Regions from separate parts of the Homo sapiens genome. Here region 2 is linked to region 1. The links come from fine-mapping of genetic effects on gene expression. A gene starts in region 1. The other region holds a variant in brackets. All regions are shown on one strand. Distances are between the middles of the regions. Region 1 holds the start of SP8 (Sp8 transcription factor). Region 2 has its middle 58 kb from the start of SP4.

The links. PIP is the estimated chance that this variant, and not a neighbour inherited with it, causes the effect. A credible set is the group of variants that fine-mapping cannot tell apart.
Region 2: its variant is the best candidate, but not a certain one, in a credible set for the expression of SP8 in unexposed skin (GTEx, PIP 0.89).

The regions. Positions count from the first base shown.
Region 1 is chr7:20,781,423-20,793,260 of GRCh38, forward strand. SP8 (Sp8 transcription factor) reads right to left here and starts at 5,464. Exons shown (of 2, transcript NM_182700.6): 1 at 5,356-5,464; 2 at 857-4,373. The coding sequence starts at 5,376. The coding sequence ends at 2,868. RefSeq lists enhancers at 1,842-2,502, 11,587-11,838.
Region 2 is chr7:21,364,281-21,376,118 of GRCh38, forward strand. No RefSeq gene overlaps it. Among named protein-coding and RNA genes, the nearest start is that of SP4, 58 kb to the right of the region's middle. RefSeq lists an enhancer at 970-1,059 and a silencer at 4,118-4,318. The variant G/A (reference allele first, on the strand shown) is at 6,961.

The sequences.
Region 1 (11,838 bases):
GGGGAGATTGCAAACAGAAATAAAGAAGCTAAACTTGTAAGAATCCAAACACACTAACTTTTTATTCAATTTGATTCAAAATAATAATATTAATCTAATAGTGAAATAGTGATATAACATCAATCAACATTTAGAGTATTTTATGTTTCAAAGTATGGCTCAGGAACACCCATTGCTAAATGCACTTAGACATAACAAGACAGTATTTTTTATTGGCATCATTGACACCTATGAACAATAGCCTAGTAAATAGATTAAGGTTTAACCTTCCTTTTCTTTGGTGGCTGTTTAGAGACTTTAAAAGAACAGATAACTCATTTCAACAGGAATCTACTACTGATATTTACCTCTACATAATCTTTAGCTAAGACTTGGAATGCCAAAAACAAGCTTTTGTTAGCTTGACCTCCTCCACCTCCTAACAACAAAAGTTATCCCCAAACCCATGTTTTTATTTTAGATGTATTGATCTTCCAATGTAAGGCTTGGCCTTTTAAATACTAATGCAATCAATGGCCAACAACCTGACTCCTTCTGGAGACTGAGAAGGAAAGAGAATGGTGAAATTTCTTTGAATTGTGACTTAGTACAAATTTTAAGAGGTCAGTAAATCCTGATGCTATGAGCTAAATCTACTGGTAAATAATCAATTACATTCCTTAGACACTATAATCTTTATCTTGGTAAACAGAGAAAACACAGCTTTGCCAAATAGATCTTTCCATCTAACATCTTAAAGGTAATTATTTAAATATTACCACAAACAAGGATATATTTTGTTTAAATTAGACAATTAACTGAAGATAAAATGCACGTCCATAGTTTAAAAAGGGGAAAAAATACAAATTAACTGGCCTAGTCTTTTATCTGAGTTTATTATACCATTTAAAATATTACAAATAAATCAATTACATTTCATGCATTTAAAATGCAAATCTAAAATGCTCCAGAGAAAGGCTTTTCATTTCAATGTGAAATATCCAAATTATTTCAACATTACAATGAGCAATTAGTTTGCAGAATCTGCAAACATTTAAATGTAGTGTCAGAAGTATTTATTAACAGTTAACAATATTACCTTCAGGAAATACACAAAGGCCAAAGTTAGTCGAGTTTCACTTGGACAATTTATTTAATACATGGGTTTTGGCAGACCACTTATTATGAAATATAGGAGAACTCTCACTTTAACTATGCCTGAACTGCCAGCAAATGCAAATAAGTACATGCTCCATTAAATTAAATGTCATCCAACATTTATCAAATATTGTCTTAGTTACAGCTTGATACCTATCTAAATTCATATTCGAGCAAAACTAGGCCCCGAAAGTGCGTTTGTGGCTCTGCACCTCCAGAAGTGAGTTCAAAAAACCTGCAGCTCATCAGAACTGCAACAATAACTCTTAATATTTTCTTGTGACAAAAAAAAAAAATCAAGTTTACTTCAATATATTTTCAAATATTTACTGGAAGTAATGTACAAGAAAAATACTATACAAAATCGTCTCCTGGACAACTGCACCTCACACCCTTACACTGGCGGAGTTATATTTAATTGGTAACTAATCTAGAACGATTCTCCAGTTGTACAAACCATTAGGTTCAGATATATTTTACAAAGGTTCTTTTTTATTTTCCCTCTTTTGGTATTTAAACTACAGCCTCGTCTGAAATAAACGATAGCTTCTTCACTTGTTTGTAAGTTTAAATCACACACAAAAAAGTTTAACCCTACGATCTTCATGAATTGAGAGAATTTACGAAATTGGTACTATACAATTGACGGCCGGACTAACAAAAAAGATTGGGAGGTTATGTTTGGGAGTGGTGAAAAAACGAGGTAGAAAAGGACAAACATGGAGATAGTTAATCTGGTCTCACCGGAAAGGAGTATTTTTGCATAAGAAAAAAGCACCTACCCTCACCCCCGCCCCCACCCCGTAAGTTAAGTTAATGCAGTCAAAGTAACTTTGGGATCAATATTAGCAGTTTCGAGAGAAAGATTGCTCCCCGTTAGAGGAAAAAACTATTATAGAAGGGAAACCAAATGGAAGGTTGCTATTTTCCCCCTAGTTTTTTTAAAAATAAAATATATGCTATAAAGATGAAAGAAAGCTGCTGCAGCGATTCGACAAGACTGCCCTTTGCTGAAACTTGCATCGGTTCCACCTCAGGGAACAAAGAAAAAGAGGCAGACTGACATTGGGAGATCTAAACTCTACAAACTCTGGGTCTCGGGCTGCCAAAAGTCACCCCCACCAAGCCCCGACAGCCTGAGTAGGACGTCCGGCGATGCCCAGGGGCCTGGCAGGGTGCTCCGAAGCCGAGGTGCTCAGTACAGCGGCTCTGGAACCAAGCAGCCGTCTGCCCGGGCGGCGCTGTTCTGCCCAGGCCTCCAGCCTCTCCCTCTCCACCGCTCCGCTCAGGCTTGTCAGCCGAGCCGCTCCTGCCCGCGCGAGGCCCGCTGTCTACCAGGCACTGGATTAGTCCAGCTCTACCTCCAGTGGCCGTTCCCTCTAAAAGTTACGCCCTTCACAACCTGGGGGGTGGAGGAGGGGAGGACAAGGAAGAGAGAACGAGAAATAAAGGCCCGACGAGGCGCGGGTTCCGGCTGCAACGGGTTCAGGCAGCGTTACCCGTGGAAAGGGAAAGCCAGGGCCCGGGACAGCGATGCGTGTTACTTACTTGTCCATATCCCCTTTACAAAGTTAAGTCACAGAAGGAAGAAGGAAGAGGGGCAGAAACAGAAAGAGACAGAGAGCGAGTCGGATGCAATAGGGAAAGGCTGGAGTTGAAGTCCGGACAGACAGGGCCCAAGAGGACTTGGTGGGAGGAGGTCGGGGAGAGGGGCGGGCGCAGGGTGGGCGTCACTCTAGGCCGTTGCGGTGCCCGGGCTCGGGGGGCTGCAGCAGCTCTGGGGAGTGGCAGGGCGGGCTGCCCGCGGCGCTGTGCTCGCTGTCGGTGTCGCTGCCCTTCTTGCCGCCGCTGCCCGAGCCCGCCGAGCCGCCGCCGCCGCCGCCGCCACTGTGCGTCTTCACGTGCTTGCTGAGGTGGTCGCTGCGCATGAAGCGCTTGTTGCAAACTGGACAGGCGAAGCGCTTCTCGCCGGTGTGGGTCCGCAGGTGCCGCTGCAGCTCGTCGGAGCGCGTGAAGCGCTTGCCGCAGAAAAGCCAGTTGCACACGAAGGGCCGCTCGCCCGTGTGCCAGCGCAGGTGCGCCTTGAGGTGCGAAGTCTTGCCGTACACCTTGCCGCAGCCCGGGATGTGGCAGCTGTGCAGGCCCTTGCGCCGCAAGCTCGCCCCGGCAGGGCCCAGCCGCTCTGCCTCCTGGCAGTTGGGGCAGTCGCAGGTGGCGCGGCCGGAGTAGCGGCGAGCTGAGGAGCGCGGGGAGCCCCCCAGCGGCGCCGAAGGCCCAGCGCTCAACATGGAGCCCCCCGCGCCGGCCAGCGGCGACGGGGCCGAGTCCGGGTAGGAGCCGGGTAGCACTGGCTTGAAGCCGTCCATGAGGTGCTGCCCGGCGGGGCTGAGCAGGTGCGAGGAGGCGCCGCTGCTGAAGGCCGAGTGACTCAGGCCCGAGTAATCCGAGTTGTAGCCTCCGAGCGGCGAGTGCAGCGAGGTTTGGAGCCCCCCGGCGGCAGGGTGCAGCGAGCCGGGCAGCGCAGCCGCGCTGTTCGGGTTCTGCACGTCGATCCAGCCGGCCCCCACGTCCCACCAGCTGGAGGCGCCGGCCGAGCCCACCTCGCCCGCAGCACCCAGGCCCGGGTGCGAGGGCTTAAACCACGACTCGTACGGGTGCGCCATGCCCACCCGCGGGTAGATGCCCTGCAGCCCGTCCACAGAGGTGTGCACCTTGGAGATGAACACCGGCTGGTGGGAGCCGTCCTGCGAGTGCGCGGAGGAGCCGCCGCCGCCGCCCCCGCCGCCGCCGCCGCTGCCCCCGGAAACTCCGGGGGCCTGGAAAACAGAGTAGTCGTTGGCGAAGGGCGAGCTGGAGGCGGCGGCTGCGGCGGCGGCGGCGGCGGCTGCGGCGCTGCTGGAGGTGAGGGAGAAGGCGCTGGAGCCAGGCGAGCCGCCGCAGCTGAACGAGTCGGACACCAGGGCCGCGGCAGCCGCGGCTGCTGCCGCGGCCGCCGCAGCCGCCGAGGACGAGCCGCCGTTCCTGGAGGCCCCGGACACGCCGAAGCTTGAGAGACTGGAACCCACTACGTTGCAGCTGGCGGAAGAAGAGGACGAGGAGCGTTTCCAGGGGTGGAAGCCTTTGCCGAAGGAAGAAGAGCTGTCCGAGAGGGAGGAGGGAGACGGGCTGGGGCTGCCTATCTTATTACAGGTAGCGGCAAGCATGGCCAGAGGAGTCGATCCCAACCTCGGTTCTTCCTGCGAGGAGGAGAGGAGAAGGAGTGGGGGAGGGGAGGTGGGCAAAGGGCCGGTGGGGGAGGAAAGGAAGAAATGTGCATCAGTCCTTCGGTAGCCTCCAAAGCGCCCCACTGCACCCCATCTCTCGCTGCGGCGCGCCGCCACCAACTCACCTGGCACCCCCAACAGCCCCGGCGCCCGGCCGCTTCCTACTCTACAGGAGGGGACAAGTTTGGCTGCCGGCGTCTGATTCGGGAGCAAGCACCACGCTAAAGAAGAGTTTGACAAGTATTCTCACCTAAAACAACACTCTCTTGCACACAAAGCCCCAGACACTTCGTAACAAACAAGCAAAAAGTCCAGATTGGAGAGGAAGGAAGTTTTCTTTGCCGAGAAGCCTGGGGGAAAACCATTGGATTGCTTTTAAGAGCGCTTCCCTGTAATCCGGAGAGCTTTGAAAAACCTGTTCGGGTCCCCAGAAACCCATCCTGGGTTGTTTCTCCCAGGCCAAAAGAAATCAAACTGTAGGGCTCACTCTTTCTTCCTGCTTTTCTTTCTTTCTTTTTTTAAAAGCATATCTACAGTAGTAAAAACGAGACGAGTTCAACGTACCTGCGAGACAAGGCGGGCTGCAGAATTTTTTTTTAAGGGTTAGGGGAAGAATCTGCACTTTGCCCAGAAGGAAAAACTTGCTCTCTTTACCCCCGAAATCGGTGCCTGTAAAATGGGCTGGACGCAGGTCTCCCGGGCAGGGAGCAGCGAGGCGCTGCGCGGTGGCTTGTCTAAATGCCCTTCGAACCTTTTCCTGCGCTGAAAAAAAGTGACTCTGCCCCCTTCTCCCCCTTTTTCTTTTCTCCAAACTCACTTGTATTTAAAGAAAAAAAAAAAAAGCTCTCAATAGAGAGACTGATAGCCCGTGGCCTGGCCGGGGCGACTTTAACCCCCTCCAATCGGCAATAAAAGGAAACTAATTAAACCAGCAAGAGAAAATCCTGAGACTCACCCCTAGAAGTGAAGTTGCCATCACACAAAAGTGCCCTCCTCCTCTCAGAGGATCTTTTTTATATTGATAAATCAGAGGCAGTGTTTTTTTTAGAGGTGTGCAATACAATGATCAGTTCCGCCCATTCCACCACAATTGTAGCTCCCTCTCCGGCTTTGAAGTGCCGCGGAGGCGCGGCCAGCCAATCTGCGGCCTCGCCGGGCCGCGCGGCGCGCGCGCCGTGAGGTCATCGGCGCCGCCGCCTGCCGCCGTGGTGGAAGGGGGAGTGGGAGCGGAGGGGGCGGGGGCGGCTGCGTGTGTTACAAAGCGCAAAGCGCGCGCTCGCGTGTATGAGTGTGTGTGTAACAATGTAACTGTGTGCGAGTGTGACCAGGCGTAGGAGAGGACAGTGCGGAGACTGGAGGGAGGGGGGATGGGGGTGTGACACCGTAACAGTGACAGTGTGGTAAAGGCGGGGAGTGGAGAGAGTGCAGAAAAGGGAGGGTTGTGTGATAAGATAACTGCGTGTGCGACAAAGCGGGGTAGAGGGACAGAGCAGTTAAGTGTTGGGAAGGGTGTGAGTGTACGGTAGTGTAACTGACAAACCTAGGGAGGGAAGAGGGACTCAACTGGGTGGGGGGTGAGTGTGTTTGGTGTTGGGGGAGAAGGAGGGCTGTGAACATGTGTATTTGTGCGACAGAGAAGAGGGAAGGGTGTGTGTGGGCGCTTGTGTTGTGTGCGCGCACCAAAGCTGGTAGTGGGGAATGGGAACAATGCAATAAAGTGTGTGTTTGTAAGAGAGAGACTGTCGAGCTGAAGAGAGAAACCGACTAAGTTGATGGAGGCTGAGTGAATAAATATTCACAAACGCTGCCCCTGTCGCCAACTTCCTTTGGCTCCTTGTACCTAAAATCTTGAGTGATTTTTTTTTCTTAACTTGGTAAACAGCGTCACTACATTTTTGAAGAAGATCTTTAAACCCACCTTTTCTTTCCCGGCTCTCCAACGAAATAGTAGAAAGGTTGAGAGGCTAAGGGTTATTTTTAGGGATGCGTTGGGACGTGGATGCGCGCCTGCGCGCCCATGAGTTGTTTCTTTGATGCCGTGGCTTTTTTTTTTTTTTTTTTTTTTTTTTTCCCTGAGGTGGAATTCTGCTTTAGAAGTGCACGTCTCACTCTAGGGGAGGAGGTGTGTGTGTCCCGTGGTGTTGAGTAAATTTCAATACAAAAGGATTAGATAGAGAAGAGAGTAAGCGAGGGTCGTTTTTTCTTTGGGTAAGAAATTGAAGAGCGTTTTACGGAATTTAGAAATTTTCACAGAAAACCTCACTGCCTCTTTCTGAGAAAAGAATCAGGACTTTGATCGAAATATATGGGTTCTATTTATCTAAGAATAGAGAGGAGCTTTTGACAAATCTTGGACATTTATCCAGGCGTCAGTGTCTAATGGCGATTGGGCCAGAGATCTGTCTATGAGTGTGTGTGCATGTTAATAGATACACTTAGTTCAAATTCGGTGGGGTTTAGTCATTTGCTTGCCATTTGTGTTATTAGTTGCCTTCAGAAATGCCATTACAATTTCACTGCCACCACAAGGGAACTTAAACCGCAGAAAGCACAACACCAGTGTAGCAAAAAGTCCAGTCTTTGTAGCCCTATTGAATATTCATAAGTTATAAAAACAGTTCATATTTTTAACCAGTTACAAGTGCTCTCAGAAGTCTAATTTTAAAATGGAATTAACTAAAATGTGACTAGCTGGGCGAACTGTTTTGTTTTGACTGGGAAAACATTTTTATTTTACTGTTGTGTTTGAACCCCCCTCAAGGATTTCACAGCTTCTAGGGATGTCAAAAAATCTTCCTAGGGTTTACAAAATTTCGAAGTCAAGTTGTATCGTGTAAATTTCATTGAGCAGAGTTGAAACTGATGTTTGTGGTGTGAGAGTGTACATTTCTGACCCTTTTTTAAACGCTGTGGGGATATTGACTGTACATCATATCTATTGATTAAGGGGGTAAGGTATACTCTCATACTTTGAAGTAAGTGTGAAGTAAATTAATGAACTGCTTTCTTTCTCTGAGGGCTGACGCTTACCATAAATGTCGTGTTTCTCCCTGCAAGCCGCTCTGAATGATTTTAGCGTGTTGAGAAGGCGTGACAGGCCAGCCCAGAAGGAGGAAGGGGTGGGGGAAGGAGGGTACTCCGTTTAACAAATAAAAGAGAATTAACTTCATTGCTTTGGTCTCCTTCTTTAATGATATTCATTTTAAGGGCCTAATATACAGTTGTTCAGATTTGGGGTTTAATTCTAATCAATACCATCATCCTCAAAGGTGGAGAAAAACAGCTTTGAGGGGAGGCTCCCATCTATGAATAGTTATTTATTTTATCTTTTTATCCTCCTATCTTCTGGAAGGAAGTGAGGCAGGACTATTAAAAAGTTAAATGCTGATACTGAGAGTAAACAGAGGCGTTAACACTGTTTCCTCAAAAATGCCAGGAATTAGAAAAACCCAGCGTCATGTGACTGCAGTTTTGAGCTACCTAATTCTAAGATTTTTCAAGTGTATAAATTAACTTTAGAATCATATGTCATTCTTCCTATAAGTCACAACGTTGGTGTGGATTTAATGAAAATACTGGATTCTTCAGTTTGTGTAAGATTGGCTTGCAGCATTTGGGGATTTCCACAAAGGTGTGTATGTGCAACTTTCTTCATTATATATATGTATATATATTTTTTATTAGAAATATATGTATATTCCACTTACTTTCATATAAAAAGTGAGCTATTTCTTTCATAGTAGCATTGGTCAAAGGGCATTTTTTTCTTGTACCACCCTTCTTTCACTCCCTCCCCAAAAGAAATGGCTAGTGTTTGTGACATGAGGCATAAGGCAGCTGTGTTAAAAAGAAAAGACAAAGAGAATTATATAATTGACCAAAAATTTTAGCAGTCATAATTTTGCATCTAAATATGCTTGAAACTAGACTTAATGACAGCTCTTTCTCCACTTTGGAGAAGTGACCCAATCATTCTTAAATCCTGTCCCATAGGAGAGAACATCTGTAATCCATTGTTGATATAGCCTGCCTGGCAAAGCATTTCAGGGTGCATACACTTCGGTTTAACTTTTACGATATTGATTATTACTCTTGAGTATTATATTGTGATAATATAGATGTTTGAAAAAGAGGGGGAAGAAAAATAGGAAGTACAGGCTTTCTAACATTAATTAAAAGTTTCTCCACCCCATATGAAGTTTAATGTGCTGGCAGGAAGAGGGGTAGATGGATATTCTGCTGTTTCTTGCAAACCTGTGGGATCCACTATCAATAAAGCTAAAATCTATTAGCATTCTGTATGCATCTGCAGCATAAATTTCATTTGAATTTCAAATTTAATAAACTAGGAGGTTTTTAATCATCCCTGGTTTTATTTGTTTGATATTAACATGCTTATTGACCGGGTCTGGTGACCAGTTTGATCATTACAGGACAGCAAAAAGTTAATTAAAACGACCACAGCCCCTTAATCATATCATCTGTCTCATCCATGTCGCTCTCTTTATTACCGGTGATGATGGATAGTCTCCCAGATTAATTTCTCTGTTTCTTCGATTTGGACAACAGCTTTTGGGACCTAATTTACATCCTGGGAACAACTTGCTCAAGTATATCTAACACCTTGCAGCTACAATATACATCAACATCTCCTTAGATGGAACGGAGAAAGGAAGGTTTTTTGCAGGCAGGTTTGAAGACTAATCAATGCTCGGATCTGGAGGTCTTAGCTTTCACAACCAAAGAAACAGAAGGTCCTAAAAGCAAATTAGAGGCCTCAATTCCTGCTTTTCCTTTTGCGGGAGTAGGAAGTGAAAGATGCCTCTGCTGTTTGATTAATAGATTAAAATGTGTAGCTACAGCGACAAGTAAATAAAGTCATTTGTAACCATTAAGTACAATTAGGGATTTATAGTGGAAAACATCAAAGTTATCTAGGCTTTCAAGTGTCCGGCAGCTCATCTACACCAAATACGGTTTTTGAACTTGTTAAGTGTGGACCACTATAAACAGAGCGTCAAAAAAAAAAAAAAAAAAAAAAAAAAAAAAAAAAAAAAAAGAGAGAGAGAGAGAAAATAAAAGGAAAGGAAAAAAGCCTAATGGTAAAAAATGCACACAAACTGTAGCGCGTACCTCTGCAGGGTACGTTTAAACCCGGCTCTTAGCATCTCGGTTTCTAGAGCGTTGGCAGGGACATGCAGCTCTGGAAGCTGACCGGCGGGTGCCCGCGGGAGACAGAGCGAACGCAGTGCTGGCACTGCGTCCCTGGCCTGCGCCTCTCCCAGAATGGGAAGACGACCCCCAACCCCTTGACTAGTGTGCGGGGTCCTCGCACGCGGACGTGTTGGCTACTAAATAAAGCGTGAAGAGGGATCGCTGGGTAGCTGAGCGCCGCCGGCGGCCGCCGGGAGCAGCGAGCTGAGCCAGGTTGGGTGGGGGTGTTTCCTCGTCGAGAGCTCTCTGGTCAAAGTTTCCTTCCCGCTGGAAAACAAAAACAAAAACAAAAAACAAACCAAAACCAAAACAAACAAAAAAAAAAAACCTGGCTAGGCGTGGACCTGTGAATTCCTGAGGGGTGCCCCTTAGCAGTCCATTTCTCTTTCGTGTGGTTTTACTAAGAAGTTACCTAACATTTCCTGGGAAGAGAGGTAATACAAGCCCCTCGCTGGTGGCAGATTGTTGAGCCGTAGGTGGGAAGAGATCAGTCGGCCAGAGCCCAGAGAGGGCTGTATTTTCCTGATTGGAAAATGGGAACTTCCACGCTGAACAATAGCCTCTATTAGTGAGGTTATTTGGTTCCAAACTGTCCGGCCACATTTATAGCCGAGTCCTTACTTTTCTGGTAGTGCTTAATTGGATGCATTTGTTGACCACAACGAAGCAATAGTGACTCTTGATCTACTGGCACAGGAGCTTCTTGGTGATGAAAAGCGTTGCCTTGATGACTGTAAATAAATGAGACCACTTGAGAGAGCATTTCCTATTTTTTTCTTGACTTGATATTTTTCTTCCATTCTCCTTAATATTTACTTTTTCTTCTCTGCCACTTCAAAATGTTCAAAAGTTAGGGACACTTTAATTAAAAGAGATTTACTTATCTGACTTAGCATATTACCAGCTTTGATTTATTTTAGCTGGGATATTCAAATTGCATAGTTAGAAGACAAGCGGGACTTTCCCCATGTATCAAACAATCATCTTAGTAGTAGGTAAGTTCATAGATAGGAAAAGTATAAAGATATTTACCAAAATTGATGTTCAAAATCTCCATCTCTGTGTACAGCCTGTATTAAAGGAAGAAAACAAAACACCTTTCCCTATTTATTGTCAACACACATAATGTTCATATCTTCATGCTATGTTAATGTGGCCTCGTGCTACTTCTACATTCAGGCTTGCACTCTACAGTACTTTTTATATTCATCTCTGCCAGCCCATGGATAAAATTGATAATTAATTCTACAGCACTTTGTATTTCTCCTTCATCATATAAATGAAGGAAACACATGTAGGGAAAAGAGTTTGCTCATTTAGTGTGAATGGTGTGTGTTTGTGTGTGACTGTCGTTCAAGGCAAGAGAGCAAAAGAGAAGCTTAGACATTCAGATGAGTGTGTCTCTGATTTTTTTCCTAGAATGGATTTGTTTCTGTTATTTTCTCTTTTGGTATTATATATCACTTTCTTACAGCTAACATGCAGAGTTAAAAACTACTAAATGCTTATCCTCAACACTATTGATTTCTTTTCATTCTGTTCTGTTAGTAGAGGAGGTAATGCTCCCAGATTACCCCGGGGTCTCCTCCAGACGGTTGACAATTGCAATCGCAGTTTTGGGAAGATAAATGTTACTCTGGGAATTGTGTTTAATTACAAATAATCTAGGAGCTGCTCCAGGTCTCTGGGTTTAACCACACATGTGTTCAAATCACTGTATAAGGTTTACAAATGTGTGATATTTGTGAAAGGGGATACAATTCACTTTCTAAAACCAGGGGACAAACTAGCATGCTCCCACTTTGGGTTTGTCAACAGATTCTTAGAGATAACACTACCCAAAATAACACCAATGACCAGAAAGTGTGGCGTCTTCGAGCACTTGAAAGCCTAAAAAATTGTTCATTGGAGTTTACTTTCAGGTCAGTTTTATTAAAATGAAAATCTGAAAATTAGCCATGCTTTCTTGAGTTCTCAAAGTCTCTTGCACAAGTCCATTTGTGTAGAGAATATTTTTGAGTCTACATAAGTTTTTTTTAATTTTATTTTATTTTGACAGAAGTTTTGTGGATGTCCCCTGAAATAGCTCAATGGTTAATTTTTACTGTTCCTCTTGTAACTCAGCTGCTACCTTTGTGTGTGTGTGATTCTTTGCTTATATGGCAGCTCAATTAGTGTTGTTTGTGTGTGTGTGCTCGGTTTTTTCTAATAGTCTTATTAACAA
Region 2 (11,838 bases), 580 kb after region 1:
TGGGAAATAGAAGGAGGAAGTAATAATAGTTAACACTTAAAGTGTCTCCTATGAGCCAGGTACTGTTCTTTACATACAGTAACTCATAGTCTTCAAAACAACCAGGCAATATAGGTACTGCTAGAACACATTATAGACAAGGATACTGCCGCACACAGAAATTAAATAACTTGCTTGAGGCCATGCAGCTGGCAAATGTAGAATCAGATTTCGAGCCCAAACATCTGACCCCAGAGTACTGTCTTTTCCAGGAGAGATAACATAGGCCCAGCAGCAATGGTAAAAAAGAATAATAAGAGACCTTACATTTACAGAGCACTAGCCCAAGCCCCCAACATATATGATTGCATTTATTCCTCATACAATTGTATGAATTAAGTGCTATTTGCATCATCATTGCAAATGTAGATTCAAAGGCTTAAAAATATTGAGGAACCATAATGAGCTACCACTTTACATCCACTCAGATGGTTATAATTTTAAAAAATAGAATATAGCAAGTGTTGGCAAAGATGTGGAGAAATTGGAACACTTGTACATTTTTGCTGGGAGTGTTAAATGCTGCAGCCACTGTGAGAAATAGTTTGGCGGTTACTCAATAAGTTAAACATAGAATTACCATATGACTCAGTAATTCTCATCTTGAGTATATACCCAAAAGAACTGAAAACAAGTGTTCAAACAAAAACTTGCATGGAATATTAATAGCAACACTATCCATAACAGCCAAAAGCTGGAAACAACTCAAATGCCTATCAGCTGATGAATGGATGATCAAAATGTGGTATGTCCATACAGTGGAATTTTATTCAGTTGTGAAAAAGAACTAAGTACTGATACATGCTATGACATGGATGAATCTTAAAAACATTATGCTCTGTGGTTGCCGTTTTGTAGTGAAAAAGAAATTATACTAAGTGAAAGAAACCAGACACAAAAGACCACATATGGTATGATGCCATATATATGAAATATTCAAAGCTGTGAAATCTATAAAGACAGAAAACATACTGGGCCAGACACAATGGCTTATGCTTATAATTCCAGCACTTTGGGAGGCTTAAGGCCAGGAGTTCAAAACCAGCCTGGTCAACATAGCAAGACCCCATCCCCACAAATGAAATTTTTTAAAGAAAATTAGCCAGGTGTGGTGACATGCACCTGTAATCCCAGCTGAGGTAGGAGGATTCCTTGGGTCTAGGAGTTCAAGTCTGCAGTCAGCCGTGATTGCACCACTGCACTCCAGCCTGGGCAACAGAGCAAGACCCTGTATCCAGAAAAACAACAACAACAACAACAAAAATCCAGATTATTGGTTGCCAGGAACTGGAGGGACAAGGAATAGAAAGTGGTTGCTTAATAGGTACAGGGTTTCCTTTTGCAGTGGTGAAAATATTCTGGAACTAGATAGTGGTGATGGATGTACAATCTTGTTTTTTGTTATGTGTATTTTATCACAGTTTTTAAAAGTAAAAAAAAAGTTGAGTAATTTGTTCAAGGTTGCACAGCATAACTAGGAAAAGGTGGATTTGAACTCATGCAGGAAAGACATTTCAAGAATTCCAAGTTGTTTGATAGGACTACATTGAAGTACATGCAAGTGGGTGGAAGAGAAGAAAAAATGGCAAAAGTTGAGGCAAAGGTAGGAATCAGAGTCTTTGTCATGAAGACACATTTTAAAGTGAATGGAGACAACCGTTGAGGCACTGACACAGGAATAGGGAGCCTGAGGATGAGAGAAGGGCACCAACCCCTCACTGAAGTCAGAGTGCTCCTCGCTAGATGAACTGTGTCTTCTGGGTGTCTGAATAGAGAAAGTGACCACTGAAACACAATAATTGCCGCAGTTGGTCAACATCCATCCCCCACTCCCAACCTAACAGTGAAAATAGAGCTATTCATTTCTATACCTCAAATACCTCTTTTGTAAAGAGAGATAATAAAAGTTCCTATTTCATAAACTTGCCATAAGGATCAAATGAGTTAATATACGCAAAATTCTTGGAACAGTGCCTGGCACAAAGTCAACACCACAGAAATGTTTGCTATTACAGTTTTGTTATTATTACCTCGATGGTTTCCATAAAGTGTCCCTCAGACCTTTTCATTTTTATCATGTATGATAAAACCAGGTGCTGTCTTATCTGGAATGTTTGCCCAAGCACATTACGTTTTGTTAACAGAGGATGAATCATTGAAACCTGACCTCATGGGAAATAGCATTATCTGCCATTTCATCTGTATTTTGCAACTACAACATACATTTCCTTCCCAGTTGCTTTGAATACAGAGAAAAAAAATGTTCTTCTCAGACTTCTTTGTACTTGTCCACAAATAATTTAGTAGTGCTAATTAGGAGAGTCCTAAAAAAATTTTAATACAATGCAATAAAATAAGAAACTATACCTAATAGTTCAGGTAGAAGATGATATTTTAGACTTTCAAGCAAAAATGCACACTTTTTATCATTACAAATATTGCATACACATTATGCTGTTTCATACAAATTCACAATTACAGAGGACAAAGGCAAAGAAAAAGAGACATTTTTAGATTCTGCAACTGTCCATCATGCTTTAGAACTTTCTGCACCAAGATTCACTAATCAGCTCTCACTGATCAGTCCTCATTATGTAAAATGTGTATCAGTGAAATGTGAAAATGAGCCCTCTTTCACTGTAACCAGACCTGCGGAAAGAATTTTAAATCTTGACATTTGAGGCTCTTTACTAATGACAACAGTGTGATAAACAGTTCATTAATCCTATTTATCAGGCTGAGAAATAAGCCAAAATTGCCATAGGCAAGTAACACTATAAAGGAGTTTTTAAAAAACAAGGAGGTACTTTATGGTTCTTTAATCTAAACCAAGGACTTAGTTTTTTTTCTGTAAAGGGTCAGTGAGTAAATATCTCTGGTCTTGTCAGTCATCACAACTCTATCATAACTACTCAACCCTGCCACCGTAATGTGAAAGTCGCCATGGACATTATGTAAACAAATGGGCCTGGCTGTGTTCCAATAAAACTTTATTTACACAGGCTACAACATGGATGAATCTTAAAACATTATGCTAAGTGGAATAAGCTAGACACAAAAGGACAAATATCGTATCATTCCATTTATATGAGGTATCTAGATTTGGCAAATTCACAGAGATGGAAAGTAGAATGGTGGTTGCCAGAGGCTGGAAAGAGAGGGAAATGGGGAGTGAGTGTTTAATGGGCCCAGAGTTTCTGACTGGGATAATGAAAAAGTTCTGAGGCCAGGCATGGAGGCTCACGCCTGTAATCTCAATACTTTGGGATACCAAGGCGGGTGGATCACCTGAGGTAAGGAGTTACGAGACCAGCCTGGCCAACATGGTGAAACCTCGTCTCTACTAAAAATACAAAAATTATTCAGGCATGGTGGCAGACGCCCATAATCCCAGCTGCTCAGGAAGTTGAAGCTGGAGAATCGTTTGAACCCAGGAGGCAGAGGTTGCGGCGAGCCGAGATTGCACCACTGCACTGCAGCCTGGGCGACAGAGTGAGACACCATCTCAACAACAACAAAAAGTTCTGGAGGTGAGTAGTGGTAATGGTTGCATACCCCTATGAATGTACTTAATGCCACTGAACTACACACTTAAAAATGGTTAAAATGATAAATTTTAAGTTATGTATATTTAACTACAGTTTTTAAAGAAAACGTATTTATAAAAACAGGCAGTCGGCCTAAGTGCAATAGCTTGCAGACCCCTGATGTAAACTTTCTTGTCCTTCTCACTATACTTCTTCCTTTGCCTCATACATCTTTGTAGTTGCTGTTGTTGTTGCTATTGCTGCTCCTCATTTCATTTCTTGATTAACCTGTGCAGCCAAAATGTTGTTTTGTGTGCAGCGGAAAAGAAAACCATCTGCACTCATTGAGGGTTACAGTTCTGTCTAAAGGTTGTTCATTCTGGAGCTCATAGCTTCAGCAGATGCAGATCTAGAATTATAAATATAAGAGTATGCCGTTCTGTGCTTTCAAAATGGCCATAGTGATACAAAAACATTTCAGGACAGATGGGCTGGTTTCCACGTTTTCTGGTGGGGGTCTAAAAAGGCTTCACTTTTGTTTGTCAATGGCCAGTAGCACAGATTAGAGTGCTGGTGTTAAGAGTGCACCTGTCAACCATGGATGTCAAGAGCTTTTCTCTATGTGAAGGTTTTGGCTCTTGTACAAGTTGAACCCTCAGCCTTGACTCATCTCTCTGCTTTGACTGATTAGGTCAATTGATCATAAATCATCTTCCAAAGACTGGCCAGTGCTCAAGCTTTCAGGTCAAACCTGATTCCTCAAAATAGAAACTCAGGCAAACAGAAATGTTCACATTTTAAAAGGAAACCTATTTTAAAATGAATATTTTGAAAATACAAATTATTAACATTATTATTGGAAGATAACTTTAAGGGGGTCAAATCAGTCTATTAAAACCTCTTAACAATTAGAATCAGACTGGGCGTGGTGGCTTACTCCTGTAACCTCAGCACTTTGGGCAGGAGCATCACTTGAAGCTCGGAGTTTGAGAGCAGCCTGGGCAACATAGCAAGACCTCATCTCTACAAAACATCAAAAATTTTTGACCAGGTGCAGTGGCTTGTTCCTGTAATCCCAACAGTTTGGGAGGCCAAGGTGGGAGGATCACTGGAGCCCAGGAGTACAAAACCAGACTAGGCAACATGGCGAAACCTCATCTCTACCAAAAAAAATATTAGCCAGGTGTGGTGGCACACACTTTTAGTCCCAGCTCCTCGGGGGGCTAAGGTGGGAGGCTTGAGCCCAGGAGGTCGAGGCTGCAGTGAGCCAGGATTGTACCACTGCACTCCAGCCTGGGTGACAGAGCCAGACCTTGTCTCAAAAAAAAAAAAAAGAAAAAAAAAATTAGCTGGCTGCAGTGGTGCATGCCTATAGTCCTAGCTACTTGCGAGGCTGAGGCCAGAGGTTCCTTTAAGCTCAACCTTATGAGTTAAAGGTTACAGTGAGCTATTATTGCACCACTGTGTTGCCTGGGTGAGAGTGAAACCCTGTCTTTTAAATTAAAAAAAAAATAGAATTCCTTCTTTACTATTAACTTGAATCTAGTGCACCAAAATTGATGACCAAAGAGTTGGCCAACGTAAGCTACCTTTGATGGAGCTGAAACCACAGTGGTAATAAATTCTGTATCTTTAATGAAATGAAAATTATTTTTATTAATCTGAGAAAACAAAGCTCTAACAAAGCTATTAATTTCTAAAGGATTTTTTTTTTTTTTTTGAGATGGAGTTTTGCTCTTGTCACACAGGCTGGAGTGCAACAGCGCAATCTCAGCTCACTGCAACCTCTGCCTTCTGGATTCAAGCAATTCTCCTGCCTTAGCCTCCCGAGTAACTGGGATTACAAACACCCGCCACCATGCCCGGCTAATTTTTATATTTTTAATAGAGATGAGGTTTCACCATCTCGAACTCCTAACCTCAGGTGATCCACCCGCCTCGGCCTCACAAAGTGCTAGGATTACAGGCGTGAGTCACCACGCCTGGGCTTCCAAAAGGATTTTTACCTAAAGGGAAAAAAAAATCTATTATTAGTATTATTTACTAATCATCCAACATTTTTAAAGCACCTTCAATACCTGCTTAAAAGACTAAAATCATATGACTTGCACACTTCAATAATTCTTCGTGTTTTTATTTTTTCTCTAATTTTTCTAATGAGTCTTTGCATGGCAAAGTGCAAAAGACATTGATTTTAGAAATTTCAAAAATGCAGACATCAAAGAGCCTCAACAATTTTATTTGATATAACAAAAATAGATTGTTTTAAATTTTTAATGCCATTCTCACTTTTTTTCTTTTAACACTTGACTCTTCTATCAATAAAACACGAATTGGTTGAAAACAACTTATTGGACTTTGTAAGGGCAAATATTGTTTTCAAATAAAAAGATAGATTTGTATTTGAAACCGCATTTTATTTAAATAATTTTAATTTGCATATATGAAAAAATGTGTTAAAATGTTTACTAATACGAAAATGCAGAAGTAGCACGTTGTCTACTTTAGCCATATATCTATTGTAGTCTCTCTACATTGTGCAGGTCCTCAGGTGTGAGGGGGAAGACAGACAGCAGGTGTCTGAGAATTTATAATCACCAAAATGATTAGGTTACAACACTCATTTCTAAACACGTGAAGTATTTACAGATCACTTGAAGAATCACTCTAGTTTTCGGGATGTGACTCGTTGACCTTCAAAAGTGGAAGCAAGTGAATTTGCCATCAGGCTCCTTCTTTCATTTTGAAGTTTAATATAGTGCCACTGGCTCTCCAATATCCATGGTGCCAATTTCCCACTGATGTCTTATATCTTGGGTTTCCGTTCCCTTGTTAGAAAAGTATAGTGATGAAATAGGTGAGGTAACTTTGAGATCAGAAAGCCCATGTAATTACATAGTGTTTCCAGCACAATCTACAACGCTCTGACACCGGATATCAGCACAACAATAAGTAAGGGCAAAAAGCTTGTCAGGGAAGTTTGGCAATGAGTATAGCCTCAGGTAAACACAAAGGCGGTGGCTGTTAACTCTTAGAAATCAGAATGTTTATGTGGAGAATAAGTTGGCATCTCCTGATCATTTCTAGGGGGTCTTTTTGTGAGGCTCATTAAAAAAAAAAAAAAGACCAAAGACAAGATGTCGTGTACATAAAGTGAATGCCTCTCTTCTGAGAAGAATCATTCACAAAAAGGATTATTTCCAACCACAAGGGGATATGCATAGTTGTTAGAATTACATAAAACATTTCTTTTCTAAAACTGTCTTATAATTCTGCAATTTGAAAAATTTAACTAGCTGCACTAATTGGACTCACACAAATAAAGCCTCCAATTTTCTTATTGAAAATTGAAGTCCACCCTGTTAGTATTTTCCCTTCATAACGATGACTCTCC[G/A]GGGCCCTGAATGCCTGCTGAGCTTTCCAAAAAAAACATTTTTGTCATTTTAAATGATTTGTCTCTGACTATACATAAAAGCAATTAGAACAAATACTTTTATTTAAATGTATGTGCTGAGCATTTTTTTCTTTGGCTGGTTTCTCGATTTTGAATTTCTTACCATGATTTGTCTGCACACTTCCAGTGCAGCTATTACAGCAAACTCTTAACTCTGCTTGCCAATCACATTGAACAGCTCTAACTAGTCATGTGTGGAATTCAGAGAACAAAGAATCCTTCCATGGGTCTGAGATTCCTTCACCTCAAAAGCACTTCAGATCACAGACTGAACCGAAAGTTTCTACTGAAACCAACCTCTACAATTCTTAGCATAAAAGTAACTATTAATATCAGATACTGCCCTATCTGCTTTAGATAGAGATACCTCATTTCCCCCAACAAACAAATTAAGTAGTAATTATCATTATCACTTCACAGGTATGGAAATTGAGGCTAGAGTATGTTAAGAAGCTTGTCCGAGGTCCTCCCTGCTAGTAAACATTGAAACCAAATTTAACCTCTTTTCTGTCTAATACCAAATCCAACACTTCCTTCATTACACTGTGGCAAAAGTCACTCAAGCCCCCCGGTTCTCTCTCCTTGCAATGTAAAATCTGTACACATTGCCATGGTAAAAAAGTTAAAATGTAAAAGCCAACATATAAAAAACCATGTATAAAGAATATACAGTAGGTTACTAATTTAATTTGTGCTTAACGTATATATAAAAAACTAATATACTAAAATATTAGTAGTGGCCATCTTTTGGCGGATTACTGGCAATGTTTCTTTCTTACACATTTTTTACTTACAAATTTTCTATATTAAATATGATACTTTTATTAAATATTTATTTAAAATGCAAGGAATGTCACTAAGTAGTCAAATGCAAATGGAATAATGAAATGGATTTTCAGAGTGACATGAATTTGTCATGTTGTCATGTTCAATTGATAATTAACATTGGGCTTAACATGTCGGTGAATTTTTAATGTCCAAGGGAGGGCTTTTAAATGCAAAATGAACCACTTAGAGCTGTCTAAATGTGAAATTTGTTATTGTGGTTAATTAAAGGACTAAATTTTTCTTAAACCCCTAAATTCAACATATAACTCTTACTAGCAGATTTAGAAATTAAATAATTTTTATTAAGAATAAGCAAATCGCTTTTAATTACTCTTTATTTTTTAACTAATAGTTTAGTAAGTTTAATGTATTAGATTTTTAACCTACATATATAACTTTAATATTTTTTATTTTTTCAAACACCTCATTTCTGATAAGGCCAACTTACAGACTAAAACAGTCTTTATAAATTCTTAAGCAGCTTTTTAAAATAAAACAAACTGAATGTACAACTTTAGTAAGCATTCAAGCACTGTTTGTAAACTTAATTGATTACATTCCCTAATGCATGTCAAATTTAAATCACAAGTATAATCAGGCATTTCTAATTAAAAATACAATACAATTAAATTCCCTAACATGTCAGAGATTCTCTAACATGTCATCTCTTGAACATTTCGTATGCTACATATAAGAAACATAAATTATCATTATGACTTAAAATATATTTCACATAAACTATCACAGTATTAATACTTTCTATATATTATGTTACTATCTCTATATAACTTCTACAACTTAATGGGTTTGCAAAGTCATTTTGTAGTAGGACAAGCCTCAGACAAAACTCCTCAGACACCAAGTTAAAGAAGGAAGGGGTTTATTCAGCCAGGAGCATTGGCAAGACTCCTGTCTCAAGAGCCAAGCTCTCCAAGTGAGCAATTCCTGTCCCTTTTAAGGGCTCACAACGCTAAGGGGGTCCGTGTGAGAGGGTTGTGATCAATTGAGCAAGCAGTGGGTATGTGACTGGTGGCTGCATGCACCAGTAATCAGAACGAAATAGAACAGGACAGGGATTTTTACAATGCTTTTCCACACAATGTCTGGAATCTACAGATAACATAACCAGTTAGGTCAGGGGTCGATCTTTAACTACCAGGCCCAGGGCGTGGCACCGGGCTGTCTGCCTATGGATTTCATTTCTGCGTTTTAGTTTTTACTTCTTTCTTTGGTGGCAGAAATTGGGCATAAGACAGTATGAGGGGTGGTCTCCTCCCTTATTCATCTGACTAAAGAGTGAATATTACTATTTCCAGCAGTGCCGGTTTCTCCAGATAAAGATTCAAAATGAATACCCTGCTACAGATCTAGGTAAACTGTCTGATTTGGGGAACTGGAATGTGGGATCAGAACTGTGATCCTTTTCCAAGCCGGTAACACTTACCATATCAACAGGGAAACTCAAAGGCATGCTTTTAGCTGCCATGCAGCTTTACAGTCCTTAAAATATATTCCTTCGGTAAATTTCCTTGGGTAAATTTCACCTTTATGCAAATTTTATTTTCAACTTTTTATTGTCTGATTTAGATACATGGAATTCTGCACCCACCACATGGAATCCAGCTAATTACCTTCAATTACAGTTAATTGAATTATGTACCCGTTTCATGGTGATAGAACATTTTTATATTTTATTCATTATCTATCTTCTTGACCACTACTTGCTAATCCTTACAATAGTCTCCTCCTTATTCATAGTTTCACTTTCCACAGTTCCTTTGGTCAACCACCGTCTGAAAATATTACATATAATAAGATATTTTGAGAGAGAAAGAAAAAAATAAGACCACATTTGCAGAACTTTTTTTACAGTATATTCTTATAATAGTTCTATTTTATTATTAGTTATTGTTAATCTCTTACTGTGCCTAATTTATAAACTAAACTTCATTATAGGCATGTATATATAAGAAAAAACACACTATATATACAGTTTAGTACTATCCTCAGTTTCAGGGGCCCACTGGGAGTCTTGGAGTATATCCCCCATGGATAAGAGGGAACAACTGTATATTAGCAATGTAATTGATTACATGTAGATTATGCAAATATATGCAAAATGTTTATAAATTCTTTTCCACCAGCACAGGAAAACATTGTTTTCATGTTCATTTATCACACCTATATATAGGTCACGGTTTGAAGACAGCTAGTTCATCTGGCTATCAACCTCCAAGGCCTGCCGTAGCTCACTCAAATTAATCATCTAATTAACAATCTTTTACACATAAACATAAAGTATTACTCTTAATAAGTATAGGATTTTTGTAAACCCACTGCAGTGCACCTAATTAAGCTAATTTTTTTATTTTTTCAGAAAATCTAAGCTGTCTAGGTTAGATGCACAATAAAAATAATAATCAATGAAATTAGCATAACAATATTTAATTTGCCATTGCCTATTATAATTGACATTGTTTCCAATTTTTAATACTATAGATAAAATTACAGTGAACATGTATTTGTCCATAAACATAGTTTTATTGTTCTGTTGAATTTTTTTTTTACAAAAATTCCTAGTAGTAATATTACTCAGTGAGCAGATGCATTTAGTTTGGCTGTTCATAGGTATTGCTTTGAATGCTTTCCAAAAAGCTTGTTTGATCACAACTGTGTCAATTTTGTACTTACTTGTTTTGTTTGAATGTTTTATAGTATAAGCAAATTTATAGAGGTTAAATAGATGCTACTAAAATGTTGCTTTGATTACTAGGAACAATAGATTTTTTTTAATAACTTCTTTTGCTATTTAAATTTTTACTTATGTGGGTTTTTTTGTTTATACCCTTTGCTCATTTACTACTGGGACTTGATGTTTGTCTTGTGAATTCAAATTAATTCTTTATGTATTATGTTAAGCTTTTCATACTTATATTTTATGCAAGCTGTTCTTCGATTAAGTTTTATCATATTTCATTTTATACATATACTTAAATGTTTTGTATTCACTTCTATGGCAATGAATCTAGAAATCTTTTGCGTAATTATTATTTAGCTTTCTTGAAAAAAAATCTATTTTAAAATATGTGTTTGTTCCATGAGGGCAAACACCATGCCTATTTTACTCAAAAGAATCTGCAGGATATAATATGTAGCCTAGCACTTAGGGGGCATCCATTAATTTTTTTGTATTTGAAAATATACAGAATTTCTCAAAGTGTTTGGCAATGAAATAAATTTTGATAACACTGAAAAGTATAGTCTTATGGAATAATAATTCTAATTAGAAAAGATTTTTAAGAAAATTAGTCTATTCAATGAGATTTACAATGTATATTAGCATATTAAAGTCTGAGTAGTCTGGTTATTAAAAAACAAAAACAAAACAAATAAAAACCTATTTAAGTTTATTTAACCCAAAAGTATACAAATTTATTTGACCATAGAACCTTCATTAACTTCTGTTATATGCAGATCAAATGTCCAGTGGAATAGGCTTCAGGAATTATGTACTAATGTCATTGCACATTCATTTGCCTAGTGTATTTATCAATGAAAATATACTTAAGATCAGTGTTCACATAGAAAGTATTACAATGGCTTCTACTGAAAAAGAAAAACATCTAATAAAGTAGCTATGAGCTCCATAAGCATTGCTTGGCCTAAAAAAGAAAAAACACAACAAAAAGTAAAGTAACTATAAGCAATGCAAAAAAAATTCTTTTCTTATTGTTATATTTTAAAAATATTTTCTCTGTAATATATATGGAGGGACACTATTAGTGTATCATTCACAGATATTTCTTTAAAAACTTCACAGTAGTGTGTGTGTGTGTGTGTGTGTGTGTGTGTGTGTGTGTATTCTGTGATCAGATCTGTTAAATTATGGACATTAGAAATTGGATATTTGCTTTAAACAATATTAAGTAGTAATTTTTTTGCACAGCTCTTAAAATAAAAATAATTATAATTTAAAAGCATAGAGTTTTA